Linked DNA regions of Homo sapiens. The protein of the gene in region 2 interacts with the protein of the main gene of each other region in a biochemical or structural test. Each region holds a gene or a part of one and is shown on either strand. Other genes may lie near its edges.

What was found.
Region 1: the proteins of SETDB1 (region 2) and AKT1 form a complex in vitro, tested with the Homo sapiens proteins (one study listed by BioGRID).
Region 3: the proteins of SETDB1 (region 2) and ATF7IP2 form a complex in vitro, tested with the Homo sapiens proteins (one study listed by BioGRID).
Region 4: the proteins of SETDB1 (region 2) and JARID2 form a complex in vitro, tested with the Homo sapiens proteins (one study listed by BioGRID).
Region 5: the proteins of SETDB1 (region 2) and ATF7IP form a complex in vitro, tested with the Homo sapiens proteins (one study listed by BioGRID).

What each region holds. Positions count from the first base shown.
Region 1 is NC_000014.9:104,786,965-104,792,748, forward strand, and holds part of AKT1 (RAC-alpha serine/threonine-protein kinase), read right to left. Parts: intron 5,759-5,784; 5' UTR 5,680-5,758; coding exon 5,634-5,679; intron 1-5,633. UniProt on the Homo sapiens protein: AKT1 is one of 3 closely related serine/threonine-protein kinases (AKT1, AKT2 and AKT3) called the AKT kinase, and which regulate many processes including metabolism, proliferation, cell survival, growth and angiogenesis.
Region 2 is NC_000001.11:150,949,451-150,955,234, reverse strand, and holds part of SETDB1 (histone-lysine N-methyltransferase SETDB1), read right to left. Parts: coding exon 5,710-5,784; intron 4,778-5,709; coding exon 4,145-4,777; coding exon of another isoform or gene 4,141-4,144; intron 3,871-4,140; coding exon 3,754-3,870; intron 1-3,753. UniProt on the Homo sapiens protein: Histone methyltransferase that specifically trimethylates 'Lys-9' of histone H3. H3 'Lys-9' trimethylation represents a specific tag for epigenetic transcriptional repression by recruiting HP1 (CBX1, CBX3 and/or CBX5) proteins to methylated histones.
Region 3 is NC_000016.10:10,426,293-10,432,076, forward strand, and holds part of ATF7IP2 (activating transcription factor 7-interacting protein 2), read left to right. Parts: exon of another isoform or gene 1-2,575; 5' UTR 2,576-2,724; intron 2,725-3,079; exon of another isoform or gene 3,080-3,353; intron 3,354-4,318; 5' UTR 4,319-4,328; coding exon 4,329-5,163; intron 5,164-5,784. UniProt on the Homo sapiens protein: Recruiter that couples transcriptional factors to general transcription apparatus and thereby modulates transcription regulation and chromatin formation. Can both act as an activator or a repressor depending on the context.
Region 4 is NC_000006.12:15,496,455-15,502,238, forward strand, and holds part of JARID2 (protein Jumonji), read left to right. Parts: coding exon 1-716; intron 717-4,452; coding exon 4,453-4,955; intron 4,956-5,784.
Region 5 is NC_000012.12:14,367,214-14,372,997, reverse strand, and holds part of ATF7IP (activating transcription factor 7-interacting protein 1), read right to left. Parts: intron 1-5,784. UniProt on the Homo sapiens protein: Recruiter that couples transcriptional factors to general transcription apparatus and thereby modulates transcription regulation and chromatin formation. Can both act as an activator or a repressor depending on the context.

The DNA.
Region 1 (5,784 bases), on a different chromosome or scaffold from region 2:
CCACCCCTGAGCTGGACAACCAGCTGAGGGCCTGGGCAGGTGGGCCCGCCAGGTTACAGGGTATGGGTGGGGTCTGCAGTCACCGGGCCCGCCTGGGGGGTGTGTGAGCCCAAACACAGCGCCCCAAGGATCCCACCCCAAAGCCCGCAACATTGGCAGCAGAGTCACCCATGAACTCCCAACCCCCTCAATTCCAACGTTTCTGAAATCCAAACCTATCATTCCTTAAGGTTCAAGGAAAACACACCTAAAGGCGGCATGGCAGGGAAGGGAACTCCCGTTGGAGATGAGGAAGTAAGGGGCCTAGGGTTCGCCTAACAGCCCCATCCTGGCCTGGAGCCCCAGGGCCCTCTGCCAACCTGCCCGGGGCCCCAGCGCTGGGCTGGGGGAACCTTCTCCTGAGGCCATGGGACTAGGCACAATGGTCCAAGCAGACAGAAGCAGCAGGCAGCTGCCCACCCAGGGTGGCCTGGGGAGCAGGCCCAGAGCCACAGCCACAGCCACCAGTCTCAGCTATGGGAGGGCCCGAGGGCAGGGTGCTGGCCCCAAGCCGGGCCGGGTGTGCCCAGGCAGAGGGGACGCCAGCGGGGGCCGCGCCAGTTCCCTCCGCTCAGCCTCGTGCAGGACTTCTAGGAACCCGGCCTGATGCAACCCGGCCAGGCTTCTCCTGAGAGTGGAAGGTGTACGGGGGTCTAGGCCCCAGCACAGGAATCATTCCACCCACATTCTGTCCACTCTCCTGGGCCTCAGTTTCCCTTCCCGGAGTCCAGCCCCCCACAGGGCATCCCTGCCCAGAGAGGGCCAGTGACCAAGAAACACACAGGAAGAAGAGCTGTCCACTCAGGAGCCACCAGGCGTGGGGGCTAAGGTCCAGGGCTGGGGCCAGCAGTGACCCCTCACCCCCACTCAAGGCCACCTCGGCTTCCTCTTTTGTTGTTTTTGAAGTGAGAACTCAACAAGCTCCCAAAACAGGAACCTCCCTGATGCTGGCGGCCTCCACCACAGCCATGCCATGACCTCCACCAGCCTGTGCCTCCTGCCCCTCTCCCGGGTAGGCCCAGGGCTGTTGGGACCCCCACTCTCTGCCCAGCCCTCCCACCAGGAGCCAGCACACTTGCCTCCCCATCTCTGTCCCTGGCCTGCCCACGGGGGCCGTTCCAGACCCTCAACGCTCCCCCAGGGGAGGCAGAGCTTGGCACTAACCAGCCCAGGGCCCGCGGGTCTCACACTGAAGCCACCTAGACGCAGCCTGGGGTTGACCCTCACCTGACAGCCTGGGAAAAACTGAGGCCCAGGAGGCACAGGCAGCCCTGGCCTGGAGCCCAAAGGTTCCCACAGGCTGAGGGGAGAGTCTGCGGGCTCCCTCCCTCAGGGTCCTGCTGGGCCCCTCATCCTGGCGGGGTAATGAGCAGCCTCCATCTGCACACAAACAATTAGCCCTGCGGGGCCCTCCGCAGCAGCTGCTCTCTGGAGTGGGCTCAGAGTCCCCCACAGACCTCTTCTCAAGGGTGTTTACTCAGCAAAGCCAAGGCCTCCTCCAGGATGAAGGGGAGTGGCCTGTACCCTCTGAGGTCCCCCACCTCACGCAGGGACCCCAGGACCAGCTGGATGGCTGAGCAGCAGCTGGGGATGCAGTGAGGTTCTATGTCGCTCACCAAAGCGAAGTAACACACTGGGGTAGGAACCACTCTCTCCCTGCCTCAGTGCCCCCCCGCAGGGACAGCCAGTGCCAGGACTTCAAGGCGGGGAGAGGGGGTGGGAAGGAGGCCCAGCCTAGGCACCTGCTTGGGGTCAGAGACCAGCCTCCATACTCCCCACCGGGACGCCTGGGGCTAACTCAGCAGGAGTGGTGAGGGGGCTGCCCTGAGGCCTGGACTGGGGGGTCTATGCCAGGCATGGGCCCGGGGTAGGGCATGGCAAGGACTCAGATGTCCGGAGACTGGACCCTCCGTGAGCCGCATGGACACACGGTCCCGTGTCACCCGGGCCCGGCCAGGCACCCAGATCCGTGGCTTGGACACGCTGCCCACACACTCAGGAGCGTCTGCCGCGTAACCCACGCGCCCCAGGCAGCTTCCCTCGACCCCCGCCCACTCGGCCTTGGCCTGCTGGGTCACAGCCTGCCGAAGGCAGCCAGGCCTGCAGCTCTTCCCCGGCCCCTCTCGGACAGCGACCAGCCTGAGGGAGTCCAGGTGGTGCCCCTGCGGCCGGCACCCACTCCTGGCCTAGGCCCAGCCCTTTCTCGAGAGCCCAGAGCACCTCATCCTGGGTCCCAGCATCCCGGCCACCCGCCTCGGCCCTCTCCTGACCCACTTGGTCCAGCCATGTGGACGGGGGGACGCTCAGGAAGACAGCCGCGAGTGGACAAAAACAGGCTCCAGGCCGGGGCTGCACCAGGGCAGCTCTCCACGGGGCTAGGCTGCAGCCAGGCTGGTGCACGGCCCCAGGAGTACTGGGGCAAGCGGGCAAGGTGAGCAAGCTGTTTGGGGAAAGTACCTCAAAAGAGCCACACAGCCTCTGGCCAAAGCCTGGCACGGAGCTATCAAAGGAAGGAAAACTGCAGGCTGGAGGCCGAGTTCAGCCAGACCTGCGCCCTGGCCCAGGATTGATTTTTTAAAATTGTCAGCCTTCAAAAATCAGGAGACTTCACACAACAGAACAAATCTTTGAAAATGCAAACGTCTGAGCAACACTGAGCCCACCAGACCACCAATGGCCAGAGCTGAGCTGGGCTGCTTATCCAGTGAGACAGCCGAAACAGGAGGGGACATCTGGCCCCCTGTCCCTATAGGCCCCACCAGCCTCCTCACTAGCTCCTGCCCTTAACAGCCTAAGCTCACCCTCCAGGAACCATCTCCCTGTTAGATGTGCAGACCCAGAGGCCTCGCCTGGGTCCAGCCACAGGTCCACACAGGCCTGCAGCCGGAACTCCTGTGTCCCCATGCCCGGTCCCTTCTGTCCCTGAAGCTCCTCTGACTCAGAGCACACACATCAGAACAACAGAAAGCAGCCTGGGCCACTTCCCAGAGATGACGCTCACCTCCCAAGGAGCAGGAGAAGGAGCCTGCAGACACTGCCACCCCACCCCTCACACACAGGGCATACCCGTCCCCTCTCATCTCAATGACCACATCACCCCTGAAGGCACCATCACGCCACGTGTGGCCAGCCCAAGTAGCCGTGGTGGGACTGTCACCTGGGGATTCAGCTGAGAACCAAAGTGCCCCAGGCCACGGTCGTGGGGAGTCCCGGCAAAGGGGACAGGTGCGGGCCAGCCTCTGAGACAAGCACCCTGACCTGCAGGAGCAAGGCTGGGGGGGAGTGGAACAGGGCGTCTGCAAGGGGCTGCGGCCGGGCCTGGAGGACAGTCACTGCGTCCCTCCCTCCCTCCCCACCCCCAGCCAGGCCTGAGCACTGTGAAGCACGGGTGGGGTCAGCCCAGCACAGCCCTGCTAGGGACAGGAAGGCAGCTAGTACCTCTAACCAGTGTTGCGGGTGGGGCTGGCCCTGCCAGGAGGGTGGCACAGCACATCTGCAAGACACACAGGGGACCCCAGGGACGGGAGTGGCGAAATGCGGCAGGCCCCGGAGGACAGGCTTTCCTCCGCAAGGAGCGGCCGGCCATGCGGGTGGACGCCACCTGCTCTCGGCAACAAGAGGGGCTATGCCTGCCAAGGGCATATGTCATATCCACGCCACCTCCCATCCTCAGCGCCCACTACACTGGGGATGGAGGAGGAAGAGCCGGGGGTAGAGGTACAGGACCCTCTCTCCTGGCCTGAGGCTAGGGGCCAGATGACAGAGCCCAGAGGCTGCTGAGGCTGGCCGGACCCCAACTCAGGGCCGCCCACAAGCCATTCTCCACTCCACCAGGTCTCTCTCCCACCACCGCTCCCTGGTGTAGATGGGGAAACTGAGGCCCAAGGAGCTCAATGACCTTGCTCTTGGAAAGGGTCATGGCGATAGAGTGGCTAACCAGGGTTCAAACTCAGCTCTCTGGACGCCCCACTGGGCCTGATGTCCTGTCCCTGCCAGGCCCCTCCTGAAGGCACGACATCAGCAGCAGCCTGAAAATCACCTGGCCTCGGGGGAGCACTCCTGCCTAGGCCCAGCTGGCTGATGGGTGCCCCAGTAACTGGGGCCTGGGCCCCTGGGCAGTCAAGGCCCTGGCATCTCCTGGGTCAGCCCGAGATCCAACAGTCTATCAACAAACACACATTTGCCAAGGATAAAGAAGCAGCGGCCCCAGGCAGCAGACTATGTGACACAGAGAGGAACAGGGCCAGGGTCGGGGCAGGGGGTCCCTGACACCAAAGAGGGCTGTGAGGTGAGGAGAGGACCTCCAGGCACAGGTGGCAGGACTCCTGGGGAACAAGCAGGGGACAGCACACGGGGAGGGGATGGAGAAGGCAGGATGCGGCAGGAGGCCTTGGGGGGAAGCAGAGCCAGAAGCTCCCCAAGGACCACAGGCGTCTGCAGCCTCCTTGTCTTCATCTCGAGGCCCCGCGTGCCATCACTGGTAGCTGCCCACTCAAACACTCCAAACACACAGCCAGCCACACCCCTGATTCCCCCAGCATCTCATCTCGGTCACTCCTTCACCCCACCCCCAGGCTCCTGTGGCTCCTTAGGCCTGCTCTTCTGTGAGCTCCTATACATCCCACAATGCCCCATCTTGTGACACCTACTTTTGCCACACCTCCCTGTCTGCTCCAGCTGTGTTTGGGGTCTCCCCACTACCAGATGTGAAACCCATCTGCTAGAGGGTGTACGTAAAGCCGGGGGGCTGCTGGCATGAGATCACTAGAACTTAGGAGGGAACAAGTCTGGAAAAAGAAGTCAGGAGAGGGCGGACCGATTCCGCCTGGGGCAGAAGAGAGTGACTTGGCCAGAGGACCTGGACCTGAACAGGAAGCCCACCCTAGCAGGACAGAGGAGCAAAACAGCCACCCAGACTCCACCGCACCCCGCTGAGCAACGGAGGGTGGGTGAGGCAGAAGGGCCTGCACAGGGTTGGAAGGGGTGGGGCTATGTCCCCAGCTCCCATCCCACCCAGCTGCTGGCCAGGCCCCTCGGGCAGCACCTCCTCCATAGGCTGCAAGGCCAAATGAGTGAGGAGGGGGACACAGGGGCTGGGGGACTTGGCTCAGCCAGCTCTGCAGCTCCAAGGCAAACATGCCCTGTGCCCAGGCGGTACGGATTCCCCCCACCCCCAAAGCTCAGGCCTGAAGCAGGCACCAGGCCAAGCCAAGCAGCCCTGCCCTGCCCTCAGGAGCCCTTGGGCAGTGCCCTGGGCCGCCAGCGTGCCAGACCCTGGAACAGCCCAGTGTCCTCGCTGCCTTCCAGGAAAGCCAGGAGAGAGGCTGGCAGCAGCTCCCCCGCCTGCCAGGGCCCACACCAGGAAGCCACTCAGATGGCCGGCCCTGCACAGGGCCTCATCCTCCTGGCCTCCCCGAGGCCGTGCCCTCCATGCCATGGGAAGACATGGGGCCCAGGACACTCACCCTAGGCCAGCCCAGGAGCCCCAGGGGAGGCAGCCCCTCCCACCCAGCAGGGCACAGGCACTCACAGACCCTGGGGCTACTACCCCCATCTCTCCCTCCCCAGGCCCAGCCCTGGCAGCGGGTACTAACCTCGTTTGTGCAGCCAACCCTCCTTCACAATAGCCACGTCGCTCATGGTGCCCGAGGCTCCCGCGACGCTCACGCGCTCCTCTCAGGCTGGCGCTCCCCGAGCCCAGCTGGCCTGGCCACAGCCTCTGGGAGAAGCAAAGGAAGCTGAATG
Region 2 (5,784 bases):
AACACTCATGTACCACCCAGCATTATCAAATCTAAACGCTATTGTTAGATTCAAAATTTTGTTAATAATTAAAACATACATGATACAGCAATGCAACTAAACAACTGTCTATTCCTTTGTTTAGTTTTTCAATGTTATCAGTACAAATTCATCCTATGATCTCCCCAGTAGTCTCGATCTCCTCTGAATGTATTCAGGCACCTCAGGTTTTCTGTTAAACCAATTTTCCTGAAGAAGTCGCTCCTACAGCATCTGACCTGCTCCTGCAGTGGCTCTTCTCTATGCCTAGTACACAGCTGTCAGCCTGGAAGCCTCTTTCACTGCACTGTCACCTGTCTTCCCCTTTCCTGCCTTTCCCTCTCATTTTTGCAAATATTTCCAGAAACTTTCTGAGAAGGGGAATGATGAAAAACTCTGAGGTACTGCATGTCTAAAAAAATGTATTTAGCCTACTGTAACACCAAATTGATAGTTTGCCCGAGTTTAAAATTCCAGGTTGGAAATAATTTTCCCTTAGAATTCTGAACAGATTCTCCAATTGCTATCTAGCTTCTAGTGCTACTTTCAGGGAAGGCTGAAGTCATTTCAAGTCTATTTTTTAACGTGTTCTATTTCTCTTCTCTAGAAGCTTTTAGGATTTTTTTTTCCCTCAGTGTTCTGACATTTTATGATAATGTCTCTTAATGGGAACCTACCTTTATCCTTCATTATGTTGGGACCTAACTGGCCCTTTCAATTCAGAAACAAAGATCCTTCAATTATGGGACACTTTCTGAATTATTTCACTGATGCTTTTCTCCTCTGTTCTGTTAATTATGTATTCTGATCACTAGGTTTATTAGTTCACGTGTTTATATATACCAGTTTACCATGCTATACCCCACTCTTTTGTTGTCCTCCTCTTGTTTTAGAGATAAGAGTCATGCTCTGTCACCCCAGGCTAGAGTGTAGTGGTGTGATCATAGCTCACTGCAGCCTTGAACTACTGGGCTCAAGTGATCTTTCTGCCTCTGCCTCTCAAGTAGCTGGGACTACAGGCATGCATCTACCATGCCCGGCTAATTTTTTAAAAAATAATTTAGGCTGGGCGCGGTGGCTCACGCCTGTAATCCCAGCACTTTGGGAGGCTGAGGCAGACGGATCATGAGGTCAGGAGATAGAGACCATCCTGGCTAACATGGTGAAACCCTGTCTCTACTAAAAATACAAAAAAGTAGTCAGGCGTGGTGGTGGGCGACTGTAGTCCCAGCTTCTCGGGAGGCTGAGGCAGGAGAATGGCGTGAACCCGGAAGGCGGAGCTTGCAGTGAGCTGAGATCACGCCACTGCACTCCAGCCTGGGCGACAGAGCAAGACTCCATCTAAAAAAAAAAAAAATTTTTTTTTTAATTTTTAAATCATTTTTTTTGAGACGGAGTCTTGTTGTGTTGTCCAGACTGGAGTGCAGTGGTGCAATCTCAGCTTACTGTAATCTCTGCCTCCCAGCTTCAAGCGATTCTCTTGCCTCAGCCTCCCAAATAGCTGAGATTACAGGCGTGCACAATCACGCCTGGCTAATTTTTGTATTTTTATTACAGATGGGGTTTCACCATGTTGGCCAGGCTGTTCTTGAACTCCTGACCTCAGGTGATCCACCCACCTTGGCCTCCCAAAGTGTTGGGATTACAGGCATGAGCCACCGCGCATGGCCAACAATTTTTTTTTTTTTTTGAGATAGAATTTTGCTTTTCTTGCCCAGGCTGGAGTGCAATGGTGCGGTCTTGGCTCACTGCAACCTCCACCTCCTGGGTCCAAGTGATTCTCCTGTCTCAGCCTCCCAAGTAGCTGGGATTACAGGTGCTCGCCACCATCCCTGGCAAGTTTTTTGTATTTTTAGTAGAGATGGGGTTTCACCATATTGGCCAGGCTGGTCTTGAACTCCTGACCTCAAGTGATCTGCCTGCCTCAGCCTCGAAAAGTGCTGGGATTACAGGCGTGAGCCACCACGCCCAGCCCCAACAATTTTTTTTTAGACACAGGGTCTTACTATGTTGCCCAGTCTGGTCTCAAACTCCAGGCCTCAAGTAATCTTTCGGCCTCACCCTCCTCAGTAGCTGTCCTCAACCTCATGCTGGTTCCACCTCCTCTGCTCAACCTTTAAATGTTGGGGCACCCAGGGCTTACTCCTGAGCCGCCTTCTCTATTATCAACATTGTCTCTAGGTGAACTTATTCAGGCTTTAAATACTCCTGTGCTGATGATTCCTAAATTTTTATATCCCACTCTCTCCAGAAATCCCAGTGTCTTCTTGACATTTCTACTTGGATTGCCTGACAGGCATTTCAAACTTTTTGTTTTGTTTTGTTTTCTGAGACTGAGTTTCGCTCTTGTTGCCCAGGCTGGAGTGCAATGGTGCGATCTTAGCTCACCACAACCTCCGCCTCCCAGATTCAAGCAATTCTCCTGCCTCAGCCTCCCGAGTAGCTGAGATTACAGGCATGCGCCACCATGCCCGGCTAATTTTTTTTTTTTGTATTTTTAGTAGAGACGGGATTTCTCCATGTTGGTCAAGGCTGGTCTTGAACTCCCGACCTCAGGTGATCCGCCCGCCTCAGCCTCCCAAAGTGCTGGGATTACAGGCGTGAGCCACTGCGCCCGGCGGCATTTCAAACTTAACATGGCCAAAACAAAAACTGAATTTCACTCAAACCTACTACTCCTTCGGTCTTCCATCTCAGTAAAAAGCACCAACAACCACTAAGATGCTCAAGCCAAAAATTTAGGAATTGTCCTTGATTCTACTCTTTCCCCCCACTCCATAATCTATCCAATTCTGTAGCTCTACCTATTAATACAGCCCAAATCTATCCTTCTTACCTCTACTATCACCTCCATTCTATTGCAAGTCATAGCTGCAACAATGTCTCTCTCTGCTGTACTCCTATAACGATCTCCTAATTGGTCTTCCAAAATCTACTTTTGCCATCCTAAGACCTATGATCTACAAAGAAGCCAGAGTAATCTGAAAAAGGCAGGTCACATCACTTGGCAGCTTAAAATCCTGTAAGAGCACCATGAATTTGATTCTAACTTTTCTTTTTTTTTTTTTAAGGCAGAGTCTCGCTCTTGTCACCCAGGCTGAAGTGCAGTGGCATGATCTTGGCTCACTGCAACCTCTGCCTCCTGGATTCAAGCGATTCTCCTGCCTCAGCCTCCCAAGTAGTTGGGACTGCAGGCACCCGCCACCACCCCCGGCTAATTTTTGTATTTTTAGTAGAGACAGGGTTTCACCAGGTTGGCCAGGCTGGTCTCAAACTCCTGACCTCAGGTGATCCACCCACCTTGGCCTCCGAAAGTGCTGGGATTACAGGTGTGAGCCACTGTGCCAGCCTGATTCTAACTTTTTTCATTCTGATTTACAAAGCCCTATGTAATCAGGTCCCTGCCTACTTCTCCTCTCTGAACACATTTCACTTACAAGTGTAAATCACAATCTGTTAAGACATTCATTTAGCTATGAAATTAAGATAATCTTTTTTTGCAACAGAAAATTGCTAGATACTATTCAATCATTCTATGTCTTCATTTCAAGGAAGGTCCAAGAAAAAAAATGTGTTTTGGAAGTCATGAAATAAGATCTAATTAATAAAATGCCTCATCTGGTATTCTATTTTTGGTTCCAATTTTTAGATTTCTGATGATTTCTATAAGCACAGAAAAACAAGAACATGCTCCTCAGTCTCTCTGAGGTACTGTGCCATTCCTTGACCACTTACCCTGTGGGTAGACACTCTTCTAGTCTCTTGTACTGGTAGCCAGAGTTAGGGTTGATTTGGCCTCCTGGGGTACAGGCTGTAGCCTGGATAGTTAGTTGATGGCAGGCACACTTGGACCTATATGACAGAGGGAAATAAAGGAAAGGAGCGGGGGGATCAGAGAACAAAAATAACACAATACACATGTACCCAAGGTTGCTCAGTGTGGCCATGTCAGACTCCAGCCTCCCTACCTCATAGCTTTCATGGAGGCCTTATAGCAGGAGTTCCAGGTGAGGGAGGAGGTAAAGGAAGATGGGGAAAGCAGTACAGATACAAGGCAAAGGAAGAGGTGAAACAGACACCATAACAAAGTTGGAAGCAGGGGCAGCAATTCCCCCCACCAACTCACTTGTCCCGACACCCATCCTTGCAGTCACAGCCAACCAGAAATTCAGGGCCTGTGTTAATGAAAACACCCTTGCCCGGGATACGTTCCTTGCTGTAGGCCACCTGGGGTGGAGGGGTTGTGTCAATCTCATTGACACAGGATAGGGGAACATCTTCCTTCCCATAAGTGATGTCCAAAATATAGTAAAAAGGCTTATAGGGCTGAAACTTTCGGTCCACAAGAACATATGGATCCAAACAGAACATCTCCAGGAAGAGGAAGTCACAGCCAGTCTCGAAAAGGTAGCGTTCTATCTCCTGCATTGTCCGAAGGCAGAGACCACAAGGTGTCTTATAGATAACATGAAAGCCCATCTTGCGGTTAACTCGACGCCGGGCTGTCATCCGCCGGAAGTCATATAGTAACGGGACCAGCAGAGGGTTCTTGCCCCGGTACTGCTCATTCCTCATAGGTCTGACTCGAGACAGACAGGTATAGCTGCAGACATGAGGTAAGTAGAAAAGCTTCTCCATGGGAGCACGGTAGGAGGGCTCTGCTGGGGCCCGCTCCAGCATGCCATGGAAGACTGGGGGTGCTGGAGGGGCCGGGAGTGCTGAGGGTGCTGGGGCAGAGGCTGTGGAGCCTAAAGGTGATCTGCAAATGAGATGCAAGTGATCAGATCGGAAGGCAACAGGACCTCTGTTTTATAATTAACCCTCCAGGTAGCTAAGCCATTTCTCTCATCTTTCAAACAGCTGTGCTCCTGAAGCTAAAGATGATTCAAGAAAGATCTTCCCTTGCCCTACCAAACCTGGACAATGAAACTCCCTGGTTACTCTTCACTGACTGATAACATCTCTATTTCTCTTTTTTTTTTTGAGACAAGTTTCGCTCTTTTTGCCTAGGCTGGAGTACAATGGCACGATCTTGGCTCACCACAACCTCTGCCTCCTGGGTTCAAGCGATTCTCCTGCCTCAGCGTCCTGAGTAGCTGGGATTACAGGCATGCGCCACCACGCCTGGCTAATTTTGTATTTTTTAGTAGAGACAGGGTTTCTCCATGTTGGCCAGGCTGGTCTCGAACTCCCGACCTCAGGTGATCCACCCGCCTCGGCCTCCCAAAGTGCTGGGATTACAGGCATGAGCCACCGCGCCCGGCCTAACATCTCTATTTCAACAGTATACCTTTTCCTAAAATGTATTTGCCTGTGAATTATGGAAGTAGAATCCAGTCTTCTACCAATGTTTTTTTGGTCTGCTGCGTGTTCTAAAAATGTCCTTACTAACTCCAAGGAAAGAGGCTGTGGTGTTTCCTTTCTATTTTAGCAATGATGGCACCATGTTCAACAAGAAGTTTTAACAAATGGCTTTCAGATGATACCATATTTCCAAGCACCCAGCTTCCAATTCAATTATTCTTACTTTCTATTTCTTAGGAACTTCTATGGGTAAAGCTTCCTTTTCAAGTCCAAACTCCTCACTATCATAAGCTTAAACTAAGCCCTTCGCTTACAGCCAAGGAACCTTCCCCTACACAGTGACCACTCATTGCTATCCTGCCTACAGAGAGCCTCAGATTTTCTCACCTATATGTCTGGTTGATCCCAGGTTTCCCACCAGAGACATTTTCACTGAGTGCAGGAGATGTAGGGGAGGAATGA
Region 3 (5,784 bases), on a different chromosome or scaffold from region 2:
TTAGTTTGGGTGGCTTTTTATTCTCAGCAATGAATTCAACTTCACTGAACGGGTTCTATGATAGGCAAACTATATAGTTAGAAATATTTAACTTACTTGCACCTTTTATCAGCAGTTTTACTTGTCTCCCCTAAGCATTCTCATGCAGACATTTTCCAGGTGAAATACCTCTCCTCAGAGCCGGAAGTTTAACCAGTTATGAAGTGTGTAATGTTAATGACCATTTAGTTCATGTTTTTCATGAAGTTTAACAAATTTACTCTGAGCTGGCACTCTGCATTCTTACTATATATTGTAATAATTGCACAGCCATGGTATAGCACCGTGTCCTTAAATAACTTACATCAGTGAAAGGCTTCTTTACCACCAGTAGGCTTCACTATTTCACACAACATGGAGTAGAGAAGGATGTCACAAGGAAGAGAGATCAAACTTTAACCATAAAAGAAAAAAAATTATTTAACTTGACTATATTAAAATTAGGAAGAGCCTAATAAGATACCTGTAACTCATATAACAAAGGATTGACAAGGAATATGTTTTTGGTTTTTGGTTTTTTTTTGTTGTTGTTTTTTTTTAAGACAGTGTCCCACTCTGTTGTCCAGGCTGAAGTACAGTGGTGTGATCTCGGCTCACTGCAACCTCCATCTCCCGGGTTCAAGCGATTCTCTTACCTTGTCCTCCCAAGTAGCCGGGAATACAGACGTGTGCCACCACACCCAGCAAATTTTTGTAGTTTTTAGTACAGACAGGGTTTCACCCTTTTGGCCAGGGTGGTCTCGAACTCCTGGCCTCAGGTGATCCGTTCGCCTCAGCCTTCCAGAGTGCTGGGATTACAGGCTTGAGCCACTGCACCTGGCCGGAATATGGTTTATAATATGTTAAGTATGCTTTGAAAATGAAAGAGGAAAGACACCCCAAGAAGTCATGAGCAGGAAATAACCAGGAATTTTTACAGACAAGTAAACATAGCTAATAAACATAGGAAAAGATGATAGTAATTAGGGAAACCCAAATTAAGACAATGAGAGCTAATTCTTTATCCAAGTAGATTGGCTAAAATCAAATCTGGCAATACCAAGGGTTCAAGAGGATGTGGCTCAGTGGTAACTCTTACGTATTGACTGTATGGATGCAAACTGGTAAAACTGCTCCAGGAAATAATTTGGTTTTCTTGAAAAGTTGAACATGGATACCTTTTCAGTATCTAGAAATTCACTCAGGAAATGCTTACACATAAGCCCCTTGAGACAGAAATAATCAGAATAGCATTGTTGTGTCAGAACATCAACAAGAACTGGAAATGTAATCCCAGCACTTTGGGAGGCTAAGGCATGAGGATCACTTCAGCCCAGGAGTTTCAGACTAGCGTGGGCAACATAGTAAGACCCAATATCCACAGAATTTTTTTTACAAATTAGCCAGTTGTGGTGGTGCATGCCTGTAATCCCAGCCTCTTAGGAGGCTGAGGTGGGAGGATAGCTTGAGCCTGGGAGGCTGAAGCTGCCATGAGCCATGCTGCACTCCAGCCTGGGTAACAGAGCAGCAAGACCCTGTCTCAAAAAAAAAAAAAAAGGAACTGGAGGTGACCCAAAGATCTTTCACAAATGATCAGATAAACAAATTTTGGTATATCTACCCAAAGAATTATTACAGTGCAAAGAAGAACACGAATTATTGCTATACGTAAGCACATGGATGAATTTTGTACATATACATAACTGAAAAAACAAGTATTAGCTATAGTTTGCTCAACAACAAAATTAAACAGTATATTTGTTTACATATGACATTTATGATGAAACTGTAGAAAAAGTAATAGAATTATAAACTAAGTTTAGGATACATCATCAGGATGGAGAAGAGGTGCAAGGGGCATAGTTTGGAGAAACATAAGTAAATGCAGGTTACTGATAGTATTCTACTTATTTGTTGCAGGTGTTTCAAAGATGTTCACTTTATTATACTTTGTAATTAACACATATTACAAGTCTTTTGTATGCATCAAATGTAGAGGCATTTTTTTACTCCAGAGCTTAAATTTCAGCACGTTTTACTAATTTGGGCCTTTTCCAAAGGCCCTTAGAAGGGCCATAGTAACAATATGTTCACGTGGTTGGATGTTTTCATCAGATTTACAATAGTAAGATATTTTAAGTATAGTCATTTAAGACCCCTGTCTCTCTTCACCTTGATTTCTTCTTTGTGTCAGCTGGCAGTAGAGTGGTTTCAGGCATTTTGTGATTGGGGGATTTATTTGTGTTTAGTGGGATGTGTTTGTGATTCAGAGTCATTTCTGGATGTAGGTAATTATAGCCTGTCAGCCTGATTGTGTTGGGAATGTGGTCTCTGGTGCCTGGCACCTGTAATATGTGAGTATTAGAGAAGCCAAAGTGCAAATTATGGAACCAGAAGGTAATCAGGAAAAAATTCCCAATTATCTGATGTTTAAAATTTTAAGTGTAGGATTTCGTTCTCATCAATTTCCAGTCAAAACAGCACTTTTCTCCTGTCAAAAATAACATAGCACATTCAATTATAAATTCACCATATATTTATTTTCTTTTTTTGATAGGAATCCTGCTTTTTTTTTTTCTTTGAGACACGGTCTCACTCTGTCACCCTTGCTGGAGTGCAGTGGTGCAATCACAGATCACGGCAGTGTCTAATTCCTGGGCTCAAGTGAACCTTTTGCATCAGCCTCCTGAATAGCTGAGACCACAGGTATGTGCCACACCTGGTTGAATTCTCCCTTTAAAATAATATAAGAATGTTTTTATTTGTAGGACACAAAACTGTAGCAGTGTCTTCAGGCAAAGCTGCTAATTTTATGCATCATGATTATCACTTTTAGCAAATACATCATAAAACCATGCTAGAGGAAAGATTTGATTTGTTCATTTTCTTTGGAAAATAATACAAAAATTGTATTCATGAAGAGACAATCATATAATACACAGTCCTATAGGAAAAATAGAATTGTATAGGCATATTAGGGTCTTAATTAATGAAGAGTATTGTGCTGTTTTTTGGATTTATTTAGTATATATATCAGGTTTGTTTGTGTGTTTGTTTTAAGACAGAGTCTCGCTCTGTCATCCAGGCTGGAGTACAATGGCACGATCTCGGCTCACTGCAACCTCTGCCTCCTGAGTTCAAGTGATTCGCTTGCCTCGGCCTCCCAGAAGCTGGGATTACAGGCATGTGCCAGCATGCCTGGCTAGTTTTTGTATTTTTAATAGAGATGGCGTTTTGCCCTGTTGGCCAGGCTGGCCTGAACTCCTGACCTCAGGTGATCCACCTGCCTCGGCCTCCCAAAGTGCTAGGATTACAGGCGTGAGCCACCCTACCAGGTTAGTTGGCTTATTTATTTAAGCTGGAATGTTATGTATCTTAGTGCTGGTTTTATTTTATTTTATTTTATTTTATTTTATTTTATTTATTTTATTTTATTTATTTTATTTTATTATTTTATTTTATTTTAATTTAATTTAATTTTTATTTTATTTATTTTACTTCATTTATTTTATTTTTATTTTGTTTTATTTTATTTTATTTTTATTTTATTTTATTTTATTTTTAGACTGTCTCACTCTGTTGCCCAAGCTGGAGTACAGTGGCGCGATGTTGGCTCACTGCAACCTCCACCTCCCGGGTTCGAGTGATTCTTGTGCTTCAGCCTGCCGAGTAGCTTGGGATTACAGGTGCATGCCACCATGCCTGGCTAATTTTTGTACTTTTAGTAGAGACAGGGTTTCACCACGTTGACCAAGCTGGTCTCGAACCCCTTACTGCAAATAATCCTTCCAACTCGGCCTCCCAAACTGCTGGGATTACAGGCATGAGCCACGACACCTGGCCACATTTATTTTAGAAACTTGAACATTAGGAAAGCTTAAACAGATGCCATTATGTATAGAAAATGGAATGTTTTATAAAAACTTTTTTTTGTTTTTATGAATAAGTGCAATTTAATGTTTAGATTATTTAAACTATGACTTACCTGGATAAAAAAATAGTGAATGGTTATAGCACTGAGGTGATATAACAAGAAGTGGCTAGATAAAACTATCAGGTAGAGGCTTACTAGCAATACAGATTTTGAATTTATGTAGTTTAGATTTATAGAAACAATAGAAAAGATTTTTATGTTTTCAGTGTCATGAAAATGGATATGATTTTCAGTAAGGTGATTATCTAAATATGGAGAGACAGTGTCAATGTTATTTTAATATTGTAAATAAATAACTTTAATTCAGTAGTAAATAACTTTTATTCACTAGAGAAATGCATTTAAATATGATGTCTTAAATTCCAGGATATGAAAGATGGCAAGTCCAGATAGAAGTAAACGGAAGATATTAAAAGCCAAAAAGACAATGCCCCTAAGTTGCCGGAAGCAAGTAGAGATGCTGAATAAGTCAAGGAATGTTGAAGCGCTGAAAACAGCAATTGGGAGTAATGTTCCAAGCGGTAATCAGAGTTTCAGTCCTAGTGTCATAACTAGGACGACTGAAATAACCAAATGTAGCCCTTCTGAAAATGGTGCATCCTCATTGGACTCTAATAAAAATTCAATATCAGAGAAAAGTAAAGTATTCTCTCAGAATTGCATAAAACCAGTAGAAGAAATTGTTCATTCAGAAACAAAATTGGAACAAGTTGTTTGTTCGTACCAAAAGCCAAGTAGAACAACAGAATCCCCCAGCAGAGTCTTCACAGAAGAGGCAAAAGATTCACTGAACACTTCTGAAAACGATTCTGAGCATCAGACAAATGTAACAAGATCCCTTTTTGAGCATGAGGGGGCTTGTAGTCTAAAGTCCAGTTGCTGTCCACCCAGTGTATTGAGTGGTGTTGTTCAGATGCCAGAGTCTACAGTAACCAGTACCGTGGGTGACAAGAAAACTGACCAGATGGTTTTCCATTTAGAAACAAACTCCAATTCAGAATCACATGATAAAAGGCAAAGTGACAACATTTTATGTTCAGAAGACTCAGGTTTTGTGCCTGTTGAGAAAACACCTAATTTGGTGAATTCAGTCACTTCTAACAACTGTGCTGATGACATTTTGAAAACTGATGAGTGTAGTAGAACCAGTATTTCAAATTGTGAAAGTGCAGACTCAACATGGCAGTCATCACTTGACACTAATAACAACAGTAAGTATATACTTATGCACCTTTTAGAAAAATTAAAATAGTCACTTTTCTTTAGGGTATTTTAAAGTCTCAAATATACAAACCAGTATAGACAGAAAAAAGGTAAATGATGACAATTATTTCACAGTATCTTGTTTCTGAACCATTCTTAGTGAGGTGGGGGACAGGTATCCACCATATTAAAAGGGTAATTATTGCAAAGAAGGAATCAATCACTTTTCCTTAAGTACAAAATATCAAAAGGTGGTTTATAGCAATTATTTGGTTCATTTCATATACATCTCTTCTTATTTTGAAGTTTTATTAGATTAAGAAGGAGGCTAGTTGAAAGAGTGAGTTTTAAAAATTGTTGGTAACCCTATTTCTTTTTTTTTTTTTTTTTTTTTGAGACGGAGTCTCGCTCTGTCGCTCAGGCTGGAGTGCAGTGGCGCGATCTTGGCTCACTGCAACCCCCACCTCCTGGGTTCGAGTGATTTGCCTGCCTCAGCCTCCTGAGTAGGTGGGATTACAGATGGGCACCACTACGCCCGGCTAATTTTTTTTTTTTTTTTTTTTGTATTTTTAGTAGAAACAGGGTTTCACCATGTTGGTCATGCTGGTCTCGAACTCCTGACCTCGTGA
Region 4 (5,784 bases), on a different chromosome or scaffold from region 2:
TGGCAGGTTGAACCCAAAGTCATGCACTAAGGAGGTGGGGGGGCGGCAGCTGCGGGAGGGCCTGCAGCTGCGGGAGGGGCTGCGGAACTCCAAGAGGAGACTGGAAGAGGCACACCAGGCGGAGAAGCCGCAGTCGCCCCCCAAGAAGATGAAAGGGGCGGCTGGCCCCGCCGAAGGCCCTGGCAAGAAGGCCCCGGCCGAGAGAGGTCTGCTGAACGGACACGTGAAGAAGGAAGTGCCGGAGCGCAGTCTGGAGAGGAATCGGCCGAAGCGGGCCACGGCCGGGAAGAGCACGCCAGGCAGACAAGCACATGGCAAGGCGGACAGCGCCTCCTGTGAAAATCGTTCTACCTCGCAACCGGAGTCCGTGCACAAGCCGCAGGACTCGGGCAAGGCCGAGAAGGGCGGCGGCAAGGCCGGGTGGGCGGCCATGGACGAGATCCCCGTCCTCAGGCCCTCCGCCAAGGAGTTCCACGATCCGCTCATCTACATCGAGTCGGTCCGCGCTCAGGTGGAGAAGTTCGGGATGTGCAGGGTGATCCCCCCTCCGGACTGGCGGCCCGAGTGCAAGCTCAACGATGAGATGCGGTTTGTCACGCAGATTCAGCACATCCACAAGCTGGGCCGGCGCTGGGGCCCCAACGTGCAGCGGCTGGCCTGCATCAAGAAGCACCTCAAATCTCAGGGCATCACCATGGACGAGCTCCCGCTCATAGGTAGGTCTGGGCGGGGGGTCAGGGGGTGGTGCCTGCCCTCCTGCCCCCAGATCCCTGCAGTTCCCTCACAGTCTTCACGTTCTCTTCCCTTGCGAAAGCTCCAGTTCCGCTTCCCTGTCTCGGGAGTAGTGGGCTTCTCAGCTCATTCCCCCTGCAGCCCTTCTTCCCAGGTCCTGGGCGTTGGTGGCAGGATAAGAATGGTATTGAGCTGCCGGGCGCGGTGGCTCACGCTTGTAATCCCAGCACTTTGGGAGGCTGAGGCGGGCAGATCATGAGGTCAGGAGATCGAGATCACGGTGAAACCCCGTCTCTACTAAAAATACAAAAAAATTAGCCGGGCGTGGTGGCGGGGGCCTGTAGTCCCAGCTACTTGGAGAGGCTGAGGCAGGAGAATGGCGTGAACCCAGGAGGCGGAGCTTGCAGTGAGCCGAGATCACACCACTGCACTCCAGCCTGGGTGACAGAGTGAGATTCCGTCTCAAAAAAAAAAAAAAAGTATTGAGCTTGGATCTGGGGTGAGCCCCCACTCTGGGTCTGGGCCCCTTGCTTCCCCTGGGCTGTCACCTCCTACCCACAACTGCTGGAGTTAAAGCAGGGGCCGGGGGGCCAGTGGGGAGCGCTGCCCCTCTGGATTCCACACTGGATTATAGAGGCTGGAAGCCCAAGGTCTAGGGGCCAGCAGGGTTGGTTTCTCCCGAAACCAACAAGACCTCCCTCCTTGGCTTGTGCATGGCTGTTTTCTCCCTGTGTCCTCACAGGGTCCTACCTCTATGTGTGTCTGTGTCTTCATCTCCTCTCCTTAGAAGGACATTGGATTAGGGCCCATCCTACTGACCTCTTTCTAACATAATTACCCTTTTGAAGACCCTGTCTCCAAATTCATTCATGTCCTGAGGTACTGGAGGTCAGGGCTTCAACATATGAATTTGGAGGGATCACCATGCAGCCCATAGCCCTCTAGGGTCCTGTAGGCCATTTTTTATCCTGCTCAGCCTTGTCTCTTCTTCCTCTGAGCTTCAGTTTCTCTGGCGATTTTGTCAAGGCCACAGGTCAAGGGATCTGTTGACCTTTTTTCTGAGACCAGGTTTTTTCTGAGACCTTTTTTCTGAGCTCTGGCTGGGGCTGTTGGAAACTTGTCACAGTGGATCCTTAGTGAATGCATATCTGGGCTGTCATGCAGACCCTTGCTCCTCAGGGTGGGTTGCAGGCAGATCCTCCTCTTGGGTTCCCCTGTAGCCCTCCTTCCCTGTCATCCTCTCTTCAGTCCTGCCACTGGGGACACAGGGTGAGGATGAACTTGCCTTGTTAAGGCTAAGTGGATTCTGTGGAGTGAGGTGCATCCAGGTAAGGTTGCAACCCCATCAGTCTAGACCCATGGGAGGAAACAGGCCACACCTCCATTTTGGAGATCCTCAATTTTCAAAGGCATGGAGACGTGTAGCCATCATTTAAGTGTCAGGGATTTGGCAGCAAGATAGGCTTCCAGGCAGGATGGAGGTTTCGTGGTTCCCCTCAGCAGGTGCCTGCCAGGACTGATGCCTGAGTGACAGTCACCTTAACTTGCAAGAGTTCTTGGTTTGTGCTCTGCTGTTGGGAATAGCACGTGATAGGAAGCAGTGCAGGGAGCAGGCTCTGCACACGCGTGCACCCACGCCCGCTGACCACGCCCCATGACTACTTGGGACACAGGATGACTGAGTCAGTGATGGAACCGCACCAAGTCCTCCTGCCTTTGGAGACCTGCAGACAGGAGGGAAACATTCCAAGTTTCCCTCCTCTGCTAGGTGGATGATGGAGCCTCGAGAGCACACTTGACATCGTAGTGACAGCGCCTTTTGTTTAGAGTAGGTTTTTCTTTACCCTCGACTCCCTTACCCTGGGACAAAAGCCATACTGTGCCTCCCTGTGGTGTGCTTATGCTTGTTGCCGTCACCCAGAAGTCTAAGGCGTCTGACATTCTGTCCCAGGGGTACTGACCTGTCTGTGACCCAGCAAGGCCTCAGGGCTGGGGTCTGAGCTCAGCCATCTGACAGTGGTAGAAACTTAATAACTTTGAAGTAATAGCCTAAAATCCACCCCAGCAGATGTGCCTTCTGCCTCTGTGTAGGTTCACTTCCACCGCAGGTCCCAGGGAGCCGCCGTGCCGCTGGCGGGAGTTGGGTGGGGAAGGGGCTCGGCCACGTAGCAGCCTCAAGGCCCTGAGTGGGAGTGATCGCAGCGGATGAGGATTCCATGAAGAATTCTTGCAAGCGCTGTGTGATTTTCAGGTGCTCTTGCGTTATAATCTACTTAGAGTGAAATATGAAAGTGTGGATTTCCTCCCTTCTGTGACCTGTGTTCTGAGTCACTCGGACGGTGGAGGACTTGTTTTGGTTGGGGGACTCGTTTTGGTGCCTACCTCTGTAAGTTGAGACAGTACCCACCTGCCCTCGGAGGAAGAACTCCCGATTGTCAGCCAGAGCCACCGTGAGTCCCACCTGTGACTCTGGGAGTCTGTGAGACCTGGAGTTTGTTGTGGAGTCTCAGTTCTTAGGTCCCTCCTGTCGAGGCTGGGGACAGTTCCCTCATGGATGTTACCCCAACTCCCCTGTTCTCCACAACCACATCAGTCCACTGTCCTGCCATTTAGTGTGAGTGGAATTCAGGCTGCTGTGTCCCCATCCCTGGTCTTGCTGGTGTGCTGGGAACTCGCTCTCTGTGTGTGCTGTGTCTGCCGAGGTGGTTCAGACGCTTCACCTAGTGGGTCCTGTCATGCTTGGTATGTGCAGCGACCCTGCCTGGACTGGATCCGTGCACACTTTACCTTTTATTACTTAAAAACAATATATCCCCACACTCTAAAGATTTAAAACGTTGTTAATTTGTACTTTGTTTAGTATTTTGTTGATGGTTATTTTGGAAAATCTCCCCTACCCCCCTTCCTTTATTTGGCCCGAGGGAGGTTGCTTTCTCCATTCCCATCTAGAAAAGCCACTGGGCGCGCGTTAAAACCTGCCCAGGTTTGATGTGCATTTGCGCTGCTCTGTGGCCTGATCAGGAGGGGCACTGAGCACCAGCTTATGCACTGAGAAGCAGCCCGCTGTCTGGATGGGCGAGGGACGAGGCATAGATGTGCTGCCCTGTGTCCTCACGCAGGTGTTGCTCTTTGCTCTGGAAATCCAGCAGGATGGAAAATAGACTTCCTTTGTGTGAGTGAGTGGGTGGATGGGTGAAGTTGAGTGAGTGAGTGGGTGGGCATTGGGAATTATAGAAGGGGAATTGGGAGTTGGTAACAAGCATGTGTCAAAGCTATTCTAGGTGACGCTGGGCCGTGGGTGCAGCCAGGACCCCTACCCACTCCTCACCAGGGAGCTAGTCTTCTCATGACACCCGCCTCCATGTGACAACACATGTACCAGTACATGGTACACTGGGATGTTCCTCCCTGTATGTCTGTCTGGCCAGCTCGCATCCTTTTCCAGCCAAGCCCCAGCTTAAATGCTGCCTCCTCAGACGCTCCCCACCTAAAATGGTAGTCCCTCGTTCCACCTGCTCTTCGTAGCAAGTGGTCATGACCCATCATTTTGTAACGCCCTTCTCTCTGTGGACCGGGAGTCTGCTGTTCACCACTCTCACCCCAGAGCCTGTCAGAGTCCTGGCTCATAGTAGGAGTTCAAGAAGTACAGGTTGAATGAGGAACATCTTGTTCGTGTCTCTTTCACTAACTGTCCCGTTTTTTTCCCCTTCGCTGTCCCAGGGGGCTGTGAGCTCGACCTGGCCTGCTTTTTCCGGCTGATTAATGAGATGGGCGGCATGCAGCAAGTGACTGACCTCAAAAAATGGAACAAACTAGCAGACATGCTGCGCATCCCCAGAACTGCCCAGGACCGGCTGGCCAAGCTGCAGGAGGCCTACTGCCAGTACCTACTCTCCTACGACTCCCTGTCCCCAGAGGAGCACCGGCGGCTGGAGAAGGAGGTGCTGATGGAGAAGGAGATCCTGGAGAAGCGCAAGGGGCCGCTGGAAGGCCACACAGAGAACGACCACCACAAGTTCCACCCTCTGCCCCGCTTCGAGCCCAAGAATGGGCTCATCCACGGCGTGGCCCCCAGGAACGGCTTCCGCAGCAAGCTCAAGGAGGTGGGCCAGGCCCAGTTGAAGACTGGCCGGCGGCGACTCTTCGCTCAGGAAAAAGAAGTGGTCAAGGAAGAGGAGGAGGACAAAGGCGTCCTCAATGACTTCCACAAGTGCATCTATAAGGTAGGGGCCTCCGCAGAGCAGCCACTCCCAGCTGCAGGAGTGCGGGAGGAATGAGAGAGGAAGTGGAGCGTGCTATGCACTGGACGGTGTGTTCTCTGATTCCCTGGGGTGATGAGGGGGCGGGCCACTGTGCTGGGTGATAGCGCTGTATTAGTCCTCTCGTGTTGCTGAAATACTACAGACTGGGGAATTCATAATAAACAGAAATGTACTGGCTCCTGGTTGTGGAGCCTGGGAAGTCCAATATCGAGGAACCTAGTGAGGGCCTTGTGGGTGCGTTGATGGGGCAGCAGGAGACCCAGTGAGGGAGGGGAAGTCCACTCCACGAAGATACCACGAGTCCATTCCGCCTGCCTAGGGCCTCGGGTTTCCTTTTCATTAACTGGCTTGCGTGTGCGTGTTGCATGCACGTGCACACATCTCCATATGCCAGGGATAAGTAACTGGGCTGCATGCTTCGTTTCCCCTGCTTCTCCAGTTCCGTTTCATCCTGGTGCTCGACAGCTGCCCAGATCCAGCTGAACTTCTCACTGGCTGGACCGTCAGTGGACTCTGTGCGCTTGTTTTCTCTGTTTTCTATCCGCTCACCTCACTGCCAGCCCAGCGTTGCCAGGTCCTCTCTGTGGAGAGCTATCCCTGATAAAGCCATCAAAATGAATCTCACCATTCACACGCTGTGGAGGGAAGAGCTGGGGAGAAACCAGCAAACTGAAACATGCAGCGTTTCCCTGTCTCCGCCAGGTCTCCCGGCAGCACACTCATCCTGAGGAGACTCGCCCCTCCAAGAAGCAGGGGAGGCAGAGTCCGTGGCTCTCCTCTTGGCAGCTCT
Region 5 (5,784 bases), on a different chromosome or scaffold from region 2:
TTATCCTTCTACAAAATGGTAGGCATTATCACTGAGAATTACTGAACCAAAGAAAGTTCCTTTTACAGCTTTGACAGTTCTGAGGACAACTATTCTAACATACAAATCAAATTTCTTATTAGAATGTTAAATTATTAGAATGCCAAGAGTGATGGACACATAATTTCTAGGTATCAAACCAGATAATACTTCCCCAAAGTAGCATAGGGCTATACAAACAACAAAGAAAGGGAGAACGGATCATATATAGTAAGACATTATGGCATTACTACCTCACATCACCATCATACAAAGGGGTCCTCTCTCCCAAATACAGCTAGTTACTACCAGTTATTGGATATAAAAGAACACAAAATGTTTCTTATAATATTCTGAGCAATGGAAAACTGCAGACATGAATAAGTGCATATTTCTGATGGCAAAGTTAATAAGTCATCTTCATTTCCCAGATTCTCATATTCATATAGGTCCAACTATAAAGACTCTCAGGAAGGTATAACTGTTCCCTTAGGCCTATGGTATTTTTTTTTTTTTTTTGAAAAGTGGCTGAGGTACCTGAGTCATCCTCTTAAAGATTCTAAACTCCAAATGATCGAAATTTAAAATTGAAACATTCACACCATATAAACAAGCACTAGTAGCCCTGATCTACTTATTCTTAACTGAAAGTGCTCCCCAGCACTCACTCTCTGTCTCCAATACAAAATGGTTTCCACCATGCAAGCTGAATCATCTATAAAAAGTTTAATTTTCTTTGTTTTCAACAAATTAAAATGCCTGGAGGAGCCCCTGATTTACTCTGTGGATGGCAGGACAATCTGAGAAAGAACATGGCAAAGTAATGTTTAAATACTCTTGGCCTCTCTAATAAAATATAAGGTCAAACAAGCAAGAAGTTTAAAAGAGAGTTCCACTAAAGGATAGGCAATTTCTAAGTACTCTAGGAAAGTGACAAGGACTATGGTCTCTGAAGCTAATTAATGACATTAAGGTAATCTGTTTAAATAATGTTAAAACATCACCTAATTTTTCAATCAATAATATGCCCCACAACTGTTAGAAACTCAAAAGGCAGGAACTTTATTCTCAAGCTTCTTTATACATGTGACTCCCTTGAAAAACAAGGTATGCAGCCAATGCATAAATTTTCCATAGGCCTCAAAACCTAAAAGAAAAAATTATAATAGAAATCCTTCTAAACTAAATCACACGCTCATTTCCCTTCTGAAATAGGTTAAATATAACAATATTCTCTGATTCAGAATCATTAATAAAATCATCAATTAATAATGAACATTCTATAACTACTGATTCAGCTCTGGGAATACTGATTCCCAAACTAAATAGCCTCATAACTAAGTTTATAAATTATTGCTTCTAACAGTAGAAATATAACCCTCCTTTACTATCATGATGCTGGACATCATTTCTTTTCCCTACCAAAATGCATTTCTCAAGTAGCACTTCTAATTTTTTACTCCTCATCTGTTATAGTCTAGAAACCAAGTATAATAATAAACCAGAACTAGAAAAAGTTCTCAACTTTCACAAAAAAGTAAAATATCTAAGCTGTTATAAGCAGTGTTGCTTGAAAAAGACCCAAAGGCAGGGATTTTTCATTAAAAAAGATAAACTGCTTAAGAAAGGCCAATAATATCTTAATATTTTATATCCATTTTCTAGATTTATTTTCATAAAGCCAATAATATTTTATCATTTGAGTTCTATATTTCCGTGATTTCTTCTTTTCATTCCTCCACTAATTTACAAGTTTAGTTCAATAAAAATGTTATTTTGGCAATAAACTGACTCCTGAATCAATTATTTAAAAGATATAAAGTAGAATTACAGCTGAAATACATCCTTATTAATCAAGATAATCTTTTTCAATGCAATCAGCATAAAAAAGAGATTTAATGGAAAATAAATTTATTCTAATAATTAGGGAAACATCCTTATCAGAAAATATAATAATTTAATGATACCAAGGAAACTAAAATAAAAATTTTTTATCTTTATTATGAGATTAAGCCTCACCCTGGCCAGAAAAGGAGTAAGGTACCTTTTCAAATTCCTCCATCAAAAAAAAAAAAAATTGTCTGTGTTTAACAAAAAAGGATTTTGATTTCGAATATTGTACAATACTTTATTTTGCGACTTATTTTTCCCACGTCTAACTTCATACTGATACTACTTTTATGTCATCATGTCCTAAACCAGATTGAAAACAGAAATATAACCTTATATTGTCTCCTAATTCATCCCTACTAAAATTATAGCTGCACCAAGAAAACATCCTCCTGAAAAGTCACAGATACCACAAATTCTCCCAGAGTTCCTAGGAAATAGTGCTTTTTGGTAGTCTACAGGAAGTGTGTAATACCGATGAATTAAAAAAAATAGTATAAGGTTATAAATTCACCCAATGTAAATTTAATGGAATTGTAACCAAAACCATTAGCTGGCTTTTTTTTCTTAATTAACCAAATGAACCTAAAGTTGATCTGCAAAAACAGTCAAAATCAGCTATGAAAATTGTAAAATAGAATTGTGAGTGGGTATTGGATTTTATATAGGATATAGCACTACAAACACATATTTAAATTGTGTACCGTCCTACAGCAAATAAAACAATGCAATAATGCTCTAAGAATAAGGCCCAGATACAGTCATTGTCAACCTCTGTTTAAACTTTATATCATATATTCTTTTGAGAAGCTAATGAAAGCTATCACTTTTTCCCCAGAAAAATGCACATAGGAGGCCAGGCGCAGTGGCTCACACTTGTACTCCCAGCACTTTGGTAGGCCGAGGCAGACGGATCACCTGAGGTAGGAAGTTCGAGCCAGCCTGACCAATATGGAGAAACCTCGTCTCTACTAAAAATACAAAATTAGCCGGGCATAGTGGCACATTCCTGTAATCCCAGCTACTCAGGAGGCTGAGGCAGGAGAATCATTTGAACCTGGGAGGCGGAGGTTGCGGTGAGCTGAGATCGTGCCATTGCACTCCAGCCTGGGCAACAAGGGCGAAACTCCATCTCAAAAAAAAAAAAAAATGAACATATGCAGACTTACATAAAATTGTGTATATCAAGGGATCGGTGGAACCCCTAGAGGACAATGGACCCCAGGTTAAATATACCTAGTATATGAATCAGAATTGTTTGCTACCAAAGCAATAAGAAATGGATCAAGTCTATGGAAACTAGATATCTGGAAAAAAATGGAAACTAGCAACTTATCTTAACACACAATATGTCAAAACACAGATATGTCCACATAGATGTAAAAGTATTTTTTAAGTTTATTAAAACTTCCAGAAAAAGTTCTAGTAAAAAATTAACAAAACACATGAACAAGGCTGTGCACGGTGGTTCACACCTGTAATTCTAGCACTGTGGGGGCCAAGGCAGGCAGATCACCTCAGGTCAGGAGTTCAAGACGAGCCTGGCCAACACGGGGAAACCCCGTCTCTACTAAAAGCAGGGCATGGTGGTGCACGCCTGTAATCCGCTACTTGGGAGGCTCAGGTAGCAGAATCGCTGGAACCCAAGAAGAGGTTACAGTGAGCCAAAATCACACCACTGCACTCCAGCCTGTGAGACAGAGCTAGACTCCACCTCAAAAAACAATAATAATAAAATAAAATACAATATAAACATACAATTCACCTTACAACAGGTAATATTTTCTGGGCAGACAAGTGCTGTAGAAATCATAAAGGAAAAAGGAAAGGCAGTACAGGCTGGACATGGTGGCTCATGCTTGTAATCTCAGCACTTTGGGAGGCTGAAGTGGGAAACTCTCTTGACCCCTGGAGTTCAAGACCAGCCTGGGCAACATAATGAGGCTTTGTTTATTAAAAAAAAAAAAAAAAGAAAAAATTAGCGGGGTGTGATATCCTTCACCAGTAGTCTCAGTTACTCCAGTGGTGGGAGAATTGCTTGAGCCTGGGAGGTCGAGGCTGCAGTGGGCAGAGATCACTGCCACTGCACTTTAGCATGCGCAGCAGAGCAAGATCCTATCTCAAAAAAAAAAAGGGGGGCAGTACATTTTACTACATAAAAATGCAAAACTTCTTAACATATACAATCATAAACCACTTAAAAGGTAATTTTAAAATTACTGTGACAAATATTAAAAGCTAAGGACCCCAAAGCCGTAAGTAGCTGTTACCAACAAATAAGAAAAACAGTAACACTCATCATAGAAAAATACACAAAAAGTCAAACAGCTAATTCACAGAAAATGAAAAAAATGCATATATAAAACAATAACAAATTCAACTTCACTAGTTATCAAAAAAAGTTAATGAGCTACTATTTTTCACCCATCTAATTGATGGTGGTATTGAATATGATAAAAAATGCTTTTCAAAAAAAAGTTTTTATCAATTTTGCAAATTACTTTAAAAGTCCTTTGAAAGTAATTTCAAAGAAATATTCTGAGGTATAGTACAAGAACGTTCACTGTAGCATTATTTTTAATAGAGAAATGAGCAAAAAGCAAAACAGGAAACAAAAAATGAAAGGTTTAATAAATCACAGTAAATTCTTCTTAGAGATAACAATAATATGTAACCATTTTAAAATGTGTTTAAAAAGAACATTTGATCATGTGGGATATTATAATAAAGTATCATGCAACCATTTAAAGACATATTTTAGAAGAATAATGAAATGGGAAAATACTCATAACATTAAAAGAGTAGAAATGAAATTATGGTACCAATGAAAAACTAATTAATAAACATTTATAGATTGCTCAATCATGGAAAAGTGAAGTCACAAATCACCAATACCTTTAGAGTGGTTATTTCTAAGCATTGTTAATTAATTTTCAATATTTTCCAAATGTTCTATAATGAATAAGTTTAAAAATATTTAAATACATTTATCACATATGCAAAACCTAATTTAAAGAAAAAATAGTTCTAATTGTTTAATAACTCAAACCTGTCTTTTCTAAACTACATATAAATTTTTAAATTTACAAAACTACAAAGATTTTAAATAACTTCAGTAACTTGGTATTCATTCCTGGAGTAACCTAGTCTTAATATTTATATATGTTGGATATGTGTCAAAATTTTGTGGCATCATAACCACCAAACTAAAATTTTAAAATATACTTGTTATTGACAAAGTACTAATAAACAAATAGTTGGTGTTCAGGCAATTAATTAATCTTATTAAGTTTACATGATTATATCTGCCTTGTAAGAAACATGACAGCAAAATCGTCCCATCAATAAATATGTTCTTCATATTCAAGAGCATTTTCAAATACCTCTTACTACCTTCAATATTAACCTAAAAAGCAATCATCTGTATATTCAAATGAAAACATACGCTTATATACACCAAACTATTTCATTTTTCTGGAAATGTAAAGTGTACCATGCCCTAAGATCAAAGATCAAAGTTCTTTTGTTAACCGAAATATTTATGTGTATGTTCAACTCGAAAATGCCTGAAATAGCATGTGGTAGAAAGGGGCTGCTAGGTAACCACTCCAGAAACATAAAAGGGAGAAAATTACACAACTGCTCTCTAAATATACTTCTGTGTAGAAGACCTCAGAGATCCAAGAATTACATCAGGTCAAATATTCTCTTGAGAAAAAAAGAAGAATCTTTCCTACCTCCATTCTATCTCATATGTGACGTCATTTAAAAATCCACCAACCAAAAGTATTACTTTCAATTACATCTAGGTAATATTTACTAATGGTATTTGTTTTAGGCAATAAAAATTTCCCTAAATTAACCGAGATTATAAAG